Linked DNA regions of Homo sapiens: region 1 is linked to region 2. The links come from fine-mapping of genetic effects on gene expression. A gene starts in region 2. The other region holds a variant in brackets. All regions are shown on one strand. Distances are between the middles of the regions.

Region 1 (5,000 bases), 830 kb before region 2:
TCTGAACAAACCACGGATCAAATCAGTCTCCCTGAAAGATGGCAGCTTCAAAAGGTAAAAGCCAGATGCAACAGAGTTAACCTCCATCACCACTTTAAAGAGGAGCAGAGCTGTGATTGTCTCCACTGAAGAACAAAATGAAGATTGGGTTTAAGCCAGTGTTGTGCTGGTAAATATTTGAACACTGACTGTTTAAAAATGTGTGTGTGTCAAGGACAGAAAACCAAACACCGCACATTCTCACTCATAAGTGGGAGTTGAGCAATTAGAACACATGGACACAGGGAGGGAAACATCACACACTGGGGCCTGTTTTGGATCTGTAGTTATTGGGAGGGTCAGGGGAGGGATGGCATTAGGAGAAATACCTAATGTAGATGACAGGTTGTTGGGTGCAGCAAACCACCGTGGCACGTGTATACCTATGTAACAAACCTGCACATGTACCCCAGAACACAAAGTATAATAGATAATATTTTAATGAAATATTAAAATTAAACTGCCAAGAATGTATATTTAAAAAGGTGTGTGTTTAAGCTTATTATTAATTTTCCCAATAAAGAGCACATAATTTACAAATAACAATAAAATGTTCAGTATTCTTTGTTCTAAATTCCATGTACCCAATCGTTTCTTTAAGAATGTTTTTATTGATTTTTGCCAAATTATTGTATCTATAGCTAACCTATGGGTGCAACTGATGAATGAATATAGTCCCAAAATAATATGGTTAGTATTTTTGGTTACCTTAGTAGGTAAGAAGAAGGTGAAACCAAAAAGACCTGTGTTGGAACCTCATTTGCTCCTCCATAATATTAGTAACTTCCTTACTGAATCAAATAACAGTTTTCAAATAATAGACCACCACTATTTTTCCAGTTTTGTGCTGCTCATGATGTAATGTCTACAAACACAGCACACTTTGAAGTTTAATATGTAATATTTACATTTTCTCCATCCATTTCTAATAATCAACAGTATAGCAAATCAAGTCCTGATTGGTGGTGTTTGCTTATTTCTATGATATAATACTTCCTTACAGCTGGTTTCCAGCTCCCAATGAGATATCACTGAATGCAGAGCTGGAAAGAGAGGTACCGTAGCAGGCCTTATATAACATTTTCACTATTATGCACTGAATATGTGCGTGTATGTCCCCAAGTCTATATGTTGAAGCCCTGACCCCCAATGTGATGGTATTTGGAGAAGGCTCCTTTGGTAGGTAATTAGATTTATGTAATTAGGTTTAGATGAGGTCACAAGTGTGGGGTCCCCATGATGAGATTAGTGACCTTATAAAAAGAGACCGGAGTATCCTATAACACTGTAGTTAAATATGAACAGAATTAACAATAATACATAGATTTAAATAGCTAGAATGAAGATATTGAATGGTCTCAACCCAAAGAAATGATCAATGTTTGAGATGATGGGTATGCCAATTACCCTGATCTGATCACTGTCCATCATGTGTATTGCAACATCACTATGTACCCCATAAACATGTACAATTATTATGTGTCAATTTTTTAAAACTAAAAAGTTTAAAAAATTAAAAATAATTGTAGAAAATAAAAACACCATGGTCACAAAAAAATAAAAATTAAAAAAGAAACCAGAGTTTGCACTTGTGCACCCCCTCGCCTGCCCCATCACCATAAAGGAACACCCTCCCTGTGCTTCCTCTTTCTATTGTTACCACTTACTCCCCATCCTCTCACAACTACTAATCTGTTCTCCATCTCCATAGTTTTATTTCCAGAATGTTATAAATATAAAATTATACAGTACATTAACTTTTGAGATGACTTTTTTCACTAAGAATAATACCCTAGTTTCGTCTACATAGTTGCATGTATCATTTCTTTTATTTCTGAGTAGTATTCCATTGTGCAGATAAACCAGAATTTGTTTAACCATTCACCCATTGATAGACATGTGGGTTGTTTCCAGTTCTTTGCTGTTATGGATAGAGCTGCCATAGACATTTGTGTATTTTGTATATAGATTTTATGCGAATATAACTTTTCATTTTTCTGGGATAAGTGCCTAAAACTGATTGCTGGGACCTATGATTGGCGCAAGAAACTTCCAAACTATTTTCCAGAGTGCCTGTATTATTTTCCTTTCCCACCATCATGTATGAGAGATCAAGCTTCTCTGTATTCTCACCAGCATTTTGTGTTGTCACTGTTTTCCATTTTAGCAGTTCTAATTGCTATGTGCTGATATCTCATTGTGGTTTTAATTTGCATTCTCTAATGGATAACGACGTTGGACATCTTTTTATGTGTTTATTTGCCACCTGTATCACCTCTTTGGGGAAATGTTTCCTCATGTCTTTTACCCATTTTCTAATTGGAGTTTGTTTCTTTACTATACAGTTTTAAGAGTTCTTTATATATTCGAGATGTAAGAAATTTGTCAGATATATGGTTTGCAAGCTTTTTCTCCCAGTCTGTAACTTGTCTTTTCATTCTCTTAAAAGAGTCTTTTGCAGCATAAAAGTTTCAAATGTTGATAAATCATATATCAATTTTTGGTGTCATGTCTAAGAACTCTTTACTTAGATTTACATCCTGAATATTTTCACTTATTTTTAAATAAAAAGTTTTAGAATTTTATATTTTCATTTAAATCCATGATCCATTATGAATTAATTTTTCATGTGGTGTGAGGTTTTAAATCAAGGTTCATTTTTCTGCCCATTGGTGTCCAATTGTTCCCGTGTTGTTTGTTCAAAGTTATCCCTTCTCCAATGAAATTTTTGTTTTTAATATAATTCATTTCATTATAAGTTTTAAAAATAATGCTTGTGC[G/A]TAACAACTAGCTCACAAAAATTTAACAATCAGTTCTGGGAGCCAGCACAGGGTGGCTCCAGCACTTTATTGGTTTAAACTATATTGTATGTTATTGATTAGGAGGGAAAAAGTAGTCATATGGATGGTTAGAAATGATGAGTGTTTACCTAAATGCCCATCAGTGATAGACTGGACAAAAAAAATGTGGTACATATACACCATGGAATACTGTGCAGCCTTAAAAAGGAGCGAGATTATGTCCTTTGCAGGGACATGGATGGAGCTGGAAGCCATAATCCTTAGCAAACTAATGCAGGAACAGAAAACCAAACACTTCATGTCCTCACTTATAAGTGGGAGCTGAATTATAAGAACACATGGACACATGTGGGAGAACAACCCACACTGAGGCCTGTTGGAAAGTGGGAGGGGAGGGAGAGTATCAGGAAGAATAGCTAATTGATGCTGGACTTAATGCCAAGGTGCTGAAATGATCTTTGCAGCAAACCACCATGGCACACGTTTACCTGTGTAAAAAGCCTGCGCATCCTGCACATGTACCCCAAGCTTAAAATAGATGTTGAGAGGAAAAAAAGAAAGAGTGAGTGTTTGTAAATAAATACATATGTAAAACATTATAAGAACATAAGGGCCCAGAGGTAGCATTAGTATCATTTTGTAGAAAATTAAAACTCAGGTTTGAAACTCACATTTTACTAGCCTCAGAGGGAGGAAGCAGGAATGGGATGTAATTCATGCTATTACTTTGAAATTGCTTAATTAATAGATTATTTTCAAACTAATTGGGTGGCCAGGAAGCTTAGTAGAATAATCATGGCCTCTGTGGTCAAATGGAGCTGGGTCTGAACCTTGGCTCTGACATTTACCAGCTTTGAGGAAATGCCTTATTCACTATCAGTTTCCCTTAGTGTTAAAATGGAGAGAACTCCAAGAATCAAAAGCTATATTCATTAATTTAACAAATACTTGATGAGTTCTGGTCTATGGAGAAGGGATTGGGGATACAGCAATGAGCAAAACAGTCATGATTTTTGCCCTCAAAGAGTTTACAATCCAGTGAAGAGGTGGACAGTGAACAAATAAGCACATTAGTGAAATGGTATTACCATTGTGAAAAGCGGCATGAAGGAAAAAAAGCAGATGTAGTGGTTTAAACAGACAAACCCAAAACTTAGCACTTTTCCAAGCACACAGAGTTTGCTCAGTGGCAGCTATTCATATTACTGCAGATTAGGGTACGATTAGTGTGGTCCAGGCAGAGGTTTGGAGGCCTGTCTGGGGACCTGACCACTGTCATCTATGTTGCATACTGTAATGCTCATTTTGCACATCAATCTGAATTGGATGTGCTTCAAGGTCCTCCTCTTACTCTAAAAATCTGTGTTCCTTAGGTGTGTCAAACAGGGATTAGTTTAATTTCTTACAAAAGGTGAGGGTAAATTCAGCAATCAGTATGGTAGTAATTGACTCAGTTGCTATATGTGTTTACATTTTAATAATGTTTTTCTGTGATATTCCCCACTCATGCCTTTTTTAACATAGAGTAAATTATGAAAAAAGACTTAGGGAGCTAGAATCCTAGGACAATGAGATGACTCTGAAAGTGTTTACAAACTTTACTTCCAACTACTGGCACACATTGAGTTTTGTTTGGAAGTAGGTTATTATTAATCAATGTTTTTTTGTAATGAAGTCCATAAATCCACATTAAATACACATCCAGACTTCTTGAGGTCCTTTTGATTTTGCATATTTTCATCAGAATAATTCACTAAACTCAATCTGAGTCTTTTTCATTTTAAGTTTTTGCTGATTTTCTACTAAGTGTCCTCTGACTTATTGAGCAACCAGTGCAGCATTGGCTGCCTGGGCAGGGAAGGAAACAGCAGGGGTTATATAGGAATCTGAGTGATTCTGCTTCTTGGCTCTTGTTCTTATGGTTTAAAATAGAAGGAATAATCTTTTCACCACTGTCTCCACCACCTCCAGTTTTCAGTGGGAAGATGAGGAGTAAGAGGTACATGGTTAGTTATTTTCTGTTTCCCTTCTCTAATTTCTTTTATTATCAAATTGGTACTGCCTTATTGTAGGAAATTGGGAAAATAAAAACTAAAAAAGGGAAAATAAAACTTATCTGTAATGTTACTGTTAGGAGTCATCGTCTCCCATACTTTGAAA
Region 2 (5,481 bases):
TTTTTTAACTCCTCTATAAATGAATATTGTACCTAGAGTGGATGCATTCCTCTTCTTCCTTTTGGGAACGCCCTACTCTGTCTATAGAGTAAGTGGACATTCACCACTTCACTGTCTTAAACTTGCTTTTGCTTTGGACTGTGGACTTGCCCTGAATTCTTTCTTGTGCGAAATCCAAGCACCCTCTCTTGGGATCTGGATTGGTACCCCTTTCTGGTAACAACATTATGAAGCCTCCACAGAAATCCCTGAAGTACGGGGTTCTAAGAGCTTCTGAGTTGGTGAACACATCCATATCCCAAAAAGGTCATACACCCTGATTCCATGGGGACAGAAGTTCCTGCACTTAGGATCCTTCCAGATCTTGTTTTATGTACCTCTTCATCCGGCTGTTCATCTGTATCCTTTGTAATATCTTCTGTTATAAATCAATAGACTGGTTTGGGATGGGAGGAGAAGATTGTGGGAATTCCTGATTTATAGCTGGTTGGTCAGAAGTACAAGTGACAACCTGGGATTTGCAATTGGTATCTGAAGTGGGGGCAGTCTTGTAGGACTGAGCCCTTAAGGGTTTGGTGCATAGTATTGAATTAAATTTAACTGTACAACACCCAGTTGGTAGACACTAAATTAAAGAGTGGAGTTTATAATAAGAAATAATTGGAGACTTGTTTGGTGGGGAAAAACCTCCACACATTTGGAGTCAGAAGTGTTGAAACTACAGAAAAATAGCTTTGTGTTTCTTTTCCTTTAACAATGCATCTAGTAAGTGGCCAAGAAAGGATTCAAACCCAGGCAGTCTGACTTCACAGTTTTGTTTTGATATTATGCAGATAGGATCCCCTAAATTCATTAATGGTTGCTGTAGCATGTATTGCAGTACTTGTACAGAAGAAACAACTGGTAGTACTCCATGAACTCCATTCTCTGGTTTAGTGAGCATTACACGATGGCTTGGTTATCTGGGGGAGGTACTGGCCTTCAGAATTAATCCAGGCTCCAATTTTTTTTTCCTTGTCTCCAATATCAGAAGACATTGAGTCCCCTGTCCTTCTGGTTTAAACCACTACTTGTTTGGTTTTCTTTTACTTGTAGCGAATATGTTAACTAATATATCCAATAATGGCTAAGATTGAGTGCAGTACTCTGCCAAACCAGAAGAAGGGAGGCTTACAGCAAATTACATTTGGTTTATAAACATAAATTAAATGTGATATTTCTATTTTATATATTTTATTATTATTTTGTAGAAATGAGGGTCTTGCTATTGCCCAGGCTAATCTCGAACTTCTTACCTCAAGGGATCCTCCCTCATCGGCCCCACAAAGTGTTGGGATTACAGATGTGAGCCACCTCACTTGGCCTAAATGTGACATATCTTATTCTCATGCTAAAGAATAAACTCTGTACCCACCGTGTAATACTATTTTTCTCATAATGTTTATTGTGGAATTAAGGAGATAATATGGTCTCAGGAAAGTTGTGTTGAGTGGTAGTCATCATCATTACTGCTATTCTCATTACGTTGAATGTTTGGAAGCTGTGGGAAATGGGAAAGAGGAGGAAATTGGGAAAATAAATGAAAATAGCCTTACAAATTTCAGGTTCTTCAAGTCTCAAGAGCTCCATTTACCCTATAAGTGCAAAATATTTTCACATAAAACCCAGTCTGTGGATCGTTAGTTATTATTAATCTAATAATATCATAAATTGGTACTACTATTCTATTTTCCATTTGGTTAAATGGGAATTTTGAAAACAGAATTATTTTGGCTTTTCACCACAAATATGCTCAGCAACTGGAATTCTTAAATCTGCAGTTTTTTTGTTTTGTTTTGTTTTGTTTTGTTTTTTGTTTTGAGACAGAGTCTCACTCTAGTCACCCAGGTTGGGGTGCAGTAGCACTATCTGGGCTCACACAACCTCCGCCTCCCGGGTTCAAGCGATTTTCCTGCCTCAGCCTCCCGAGTAGCTGGGATTACAGGCAGGTGCCTGGCTAATTTTTGTACTTTTAGTAGAGATGGGGTTTCGCCATGTTGGCCAGGCTGGTCTTGAACTCCTGACCTCAAGTGATCTGCCCGCCTTGGCCCGCCAAAGTGCTGGGATTACAGGCTTCAGCCACCGTGCCCCGCCTAAATCTGCAGTTCTGATGGAATGTTTTGACTGAAGACTGAACGTAGAAACAGTACCTTGGGTTTTGTTGTTGTTATTTTTTCCTAACCCGGCCCCCTATTAGTTTACTATGTATTAGAACCTGAGAGAGGTGACTACTCTGCCAATAAATTGCCACATTCAATATTCTTCGGTTGCCTAATTCAGTGGGAAACACAGAAAAAAAGGTAAAGAGGACATGAAATCAATAATAAATGCATCATCTATACCGGATTGGAATGCCTCTTAACACTCATTCATCTGAGGGCTGAGGGCCTGTGGTAGAAGTTCTTAATCTTGTTTTCAGGGTTTTGAAATTGTGTAACTTTTTTTTCTTTAATGTAATGAGCATGTGTATACACATTTTTTTTTTTCCAGGGGAAACCCTCCATAATTTTTACCAGATTGACAACCGTTCTAGATCCCCCGACAGGTTACGAACTACAATACTAGTTTTTTTTTTTTTTTTTTACCGGTTTGTAAAAGGATGCAATTCTTCGAATATAGTTTTTGCATCCACTTGACGAGGAAGGAGCCTCTACCCTAAACAAAAATGGCGGGAGCTGCTTCACACGTAGTCCCTCACGCAGAAAGCCTGGAAGGCCCCCTCCACTTTCTCTCCACCTTCGCACTCCTGACCCCGGAAGGACTCCGCCTTCTCCATGTCAGACTGCTGCTCAGCGCCAGGCATCAGCTGGGAAGCTGGCGTGGGCAGGCCAGCTGTACCTGGCCTGGAGCTCCAGGTACAGGGCCAGGGGCGGGGTGGGGTGGAGAGGCGGGCGGGAGGAAGCGGAGAGTTGAGCGGCCACGCAGTTGGGGCAGAGGCCTCGGGGCAGGGGTGGCGCGGACTCCATCGCTGGCGTTAGCTCTCGGAGTGCCAGGTGGAGCGGCGGAAAGCCAGAGGGTCTACGGCCGTGCCACCCTGAACACCCCCGACCTCGTCTCATCTCAGAAGCTAAGCAGGGTCGGGCCTGGTTAGTACTTGCATAGGAAAGCAGGAGGGTCCCCACGCCAGAGGGAGGCCTGCAAAGGAAGCGCGGAATTGGGATGGGCTCGCCACTGCTCTGAGCCAGAGGAAGGGTCTGGACGGCCGAGCTGGAGGGACCCCCTTTTCTGGTGTTCTTGGCAAAGAAAAAGGAAGACAGCAGAGGAGAGCTCCGCGAGGGGCTGCTGTGGGGTCGGGGGAGAGCGCGCTGGAGGTAGGGCAGCTGGTGAGGTCTCAGGTTCGGCTTGGATGCGGGTGGTTTTGAGCAGGGAGTGGCTTTTGGATGTGAAAGATTACTCTGCTTTGCAGGTGCTTTAAGAGAATAATTTAGCACGGGAGTATTGTGGTGTCAGGTCCTTCTGTAAAGTTGTTAAATTATCTATTTTCCAGAGGGAAGACTCAGCTTGTTTTTGCACAGGACTTTGAAACCTTTATTATTGTTGTTTTATTGTTGTTGTTATTGCAGCTAAACATGTTTGCTCTGTTCAAAGTGTCAGAGTTAGGTTATATAGATTTGTGCTTCACGTCAATTTTCTTTTTGATACTTCAGACTTTCCTTCCTGTTGGATTATAAAGTCAAAGTTGCAGGATAGAATTTTAAGATGTCTAAGAAACTGTTTATGACACTTATTTTTAATTCCCCAGTAGTTGGAATGTAGAGGAGCAAGTAATATCACACAGGACAATATTTTTGGTTATGTTTTATAGATTCCGTCTATAAATTTGAATAATCATGAAACCCCCTTCATGTTTATTTTTATTATGCTTCTGAAAGCAAATGAAATGACTAGTTTTTTGTTTTTTTTTCTTTAGTTTTTCAATGAATAATGATTAGGTTTGGAATCAACTTCCTCAGTAATATTAAATGAAAAAGAATGAGGTAGTTAGAATGCAAAAATAGAGGTTTGTCATAATATTTTTTCTTTTTTCTTTTTTTTTTTTTTTTGAGGCGGAGTCTGGCTCTGTCGCCCAGGCTGGAGTGCAATGGCGTGATCTCTGCTCACTGCAACCTCCGCCCCTAGGGTTCTAGAAGTTCTCCTACCTCAGCCTTCCGAGTAGCTGGGATTACAGGCGCCCGACATCACTCCTGGCTAATTTTTTTGTATTTGTAGTAGAGATGGGGTTTCGCTATATTGGCCAGGCTGGTCTTGAACTCTTGACCTCAACTGATCCACCCACCTCGGCCTCCCAAAATGCTGGGATTACAGGCGTGAGCCACCACGCCTGGCCGAGGTTTGTCATAATCTTTTAAGAATATCTCTGCAGCCAATTAAAGTGTTTGCTTTATTTTCTTTCTATTCTGCTTAAAAATTTGGAATGCTCCATTATAGGGAAAATTACTTTGGGTGAATTACTCAATACGTTTTTTAAATGCAGTAGCATAGATTGCTTAATGATCCAGAATCTAATTAGTAAAAATGTTTCTCAAAATAAAATGTGTTAATATTTAGGGAGGGGGAAGAATAAATGAGCTTCCCCCCACTTCCTTTTTACTGTAGTAATATTAAAAAAGTAATACATGTAGGCAGGTTTTTAAAAATCAAGTATTACAAACAGACTTATAAGGAAAAGCAGTCATTCTTTGCCCAGCTTTTCTATATCCCTTGTCTTATTCTCCAGAGGACCATTTTTCACTTTCTTAACTGTTCATGGTTTCCTCTGTACTTTTTAATCATATGTCTCTATCACAGGTTGTTGACTGAAATAAATGTATGTCAAGTAGAACTAACTATACTGAATCTAAAAGTTGTACTTAGAACACTGGTAGGGGGGATTAAGTTTATACTGCTGTATCCCTAGTAAGGATTAAGGGAAGCATCAGTAGTAGTAACCCACCCTAAGAGGTATTGCTGTGTTTGATTTTAAAGGAAACCACTACTTAATCAGTGGTTTTGACACTTGTCTGAAAACAGGTGGGTATTAACAGAAGGGGATAGTCTATTGGAGTATAGAAAAAGAGAACATAGAAATGTATGCAGAAATGAAGGGCCTAAAAAAGTGTAGCAAATAATTTTTTTTTTTTTTGGTGTAGGCAGGGTTTCACCATGTTTCCCAGGCTGGTCTCGAACTCCTGGGTTCATGGACTCAAGCAATCCACCCATCTCGGCCTCCCAAAGTCACTCCCAAAGTGCTCAGGCATGAGCCACTCACTGTGCCCAGCCGCAAATAAACTTTTATAGAGGGATTGCTGGTAATTTTTATATTCTGTTATGTAATATACAGCACTACCCAAATAAAAGAAATAATAAATTTGGTAGACATAAACATTGTGGTTATTAGAGAAGCCCATTCTCTTGTGCATTAGAGATAATGCTTAGGCGTTTTCTTGGCCTGAATGAAATATT

Which allele goes with the higher level. Alleles are on the strand shown, and positions count from the first base shown. SD is a standard deviation of normalised expression in the study named.
For the expression in adrenal gland of the gene that starts at base 2,807 in region 2, A is the high allele of the variant in region 1 and G is the other (large effect, 0.89 SD a copy in GTEx).

Evidence for each region.
Region 1: its variant is fine-mapped to the expression of MIGA1 in adrenal gland (GTEx, PIP 0.93).

What each region holds. Positions count from the first base shown.
Region 1 is chr1:76,951,159-76,956,158 of GRCh38, forward strand. The region is part of intron 2 of ST6GALNAC5 (ST6 N-acetylgalactosaminide alpha-2,6-sialyltransferase 5); the gene reads left to right. Among named protein-coding and RNA genes, the nearest start is that of ST6GALNAC5, 86 kb to the left of the region's middle. The variant G/A (reference allele first, on the strand shown) is at 2,820.
Region 2 is chr1:77,776,843-77,782,323 of GRCh38, forward strand. MIGA1 (mitoguardin 1) reads left to right here and starts at 2,807. Exons shown (of 16, transcript NM_001416120.1): 1 at 2,807-2,894. It also overlaps the pseudogene RNA5SP21. RefSeq lists an enhancer at 2,694-2,783.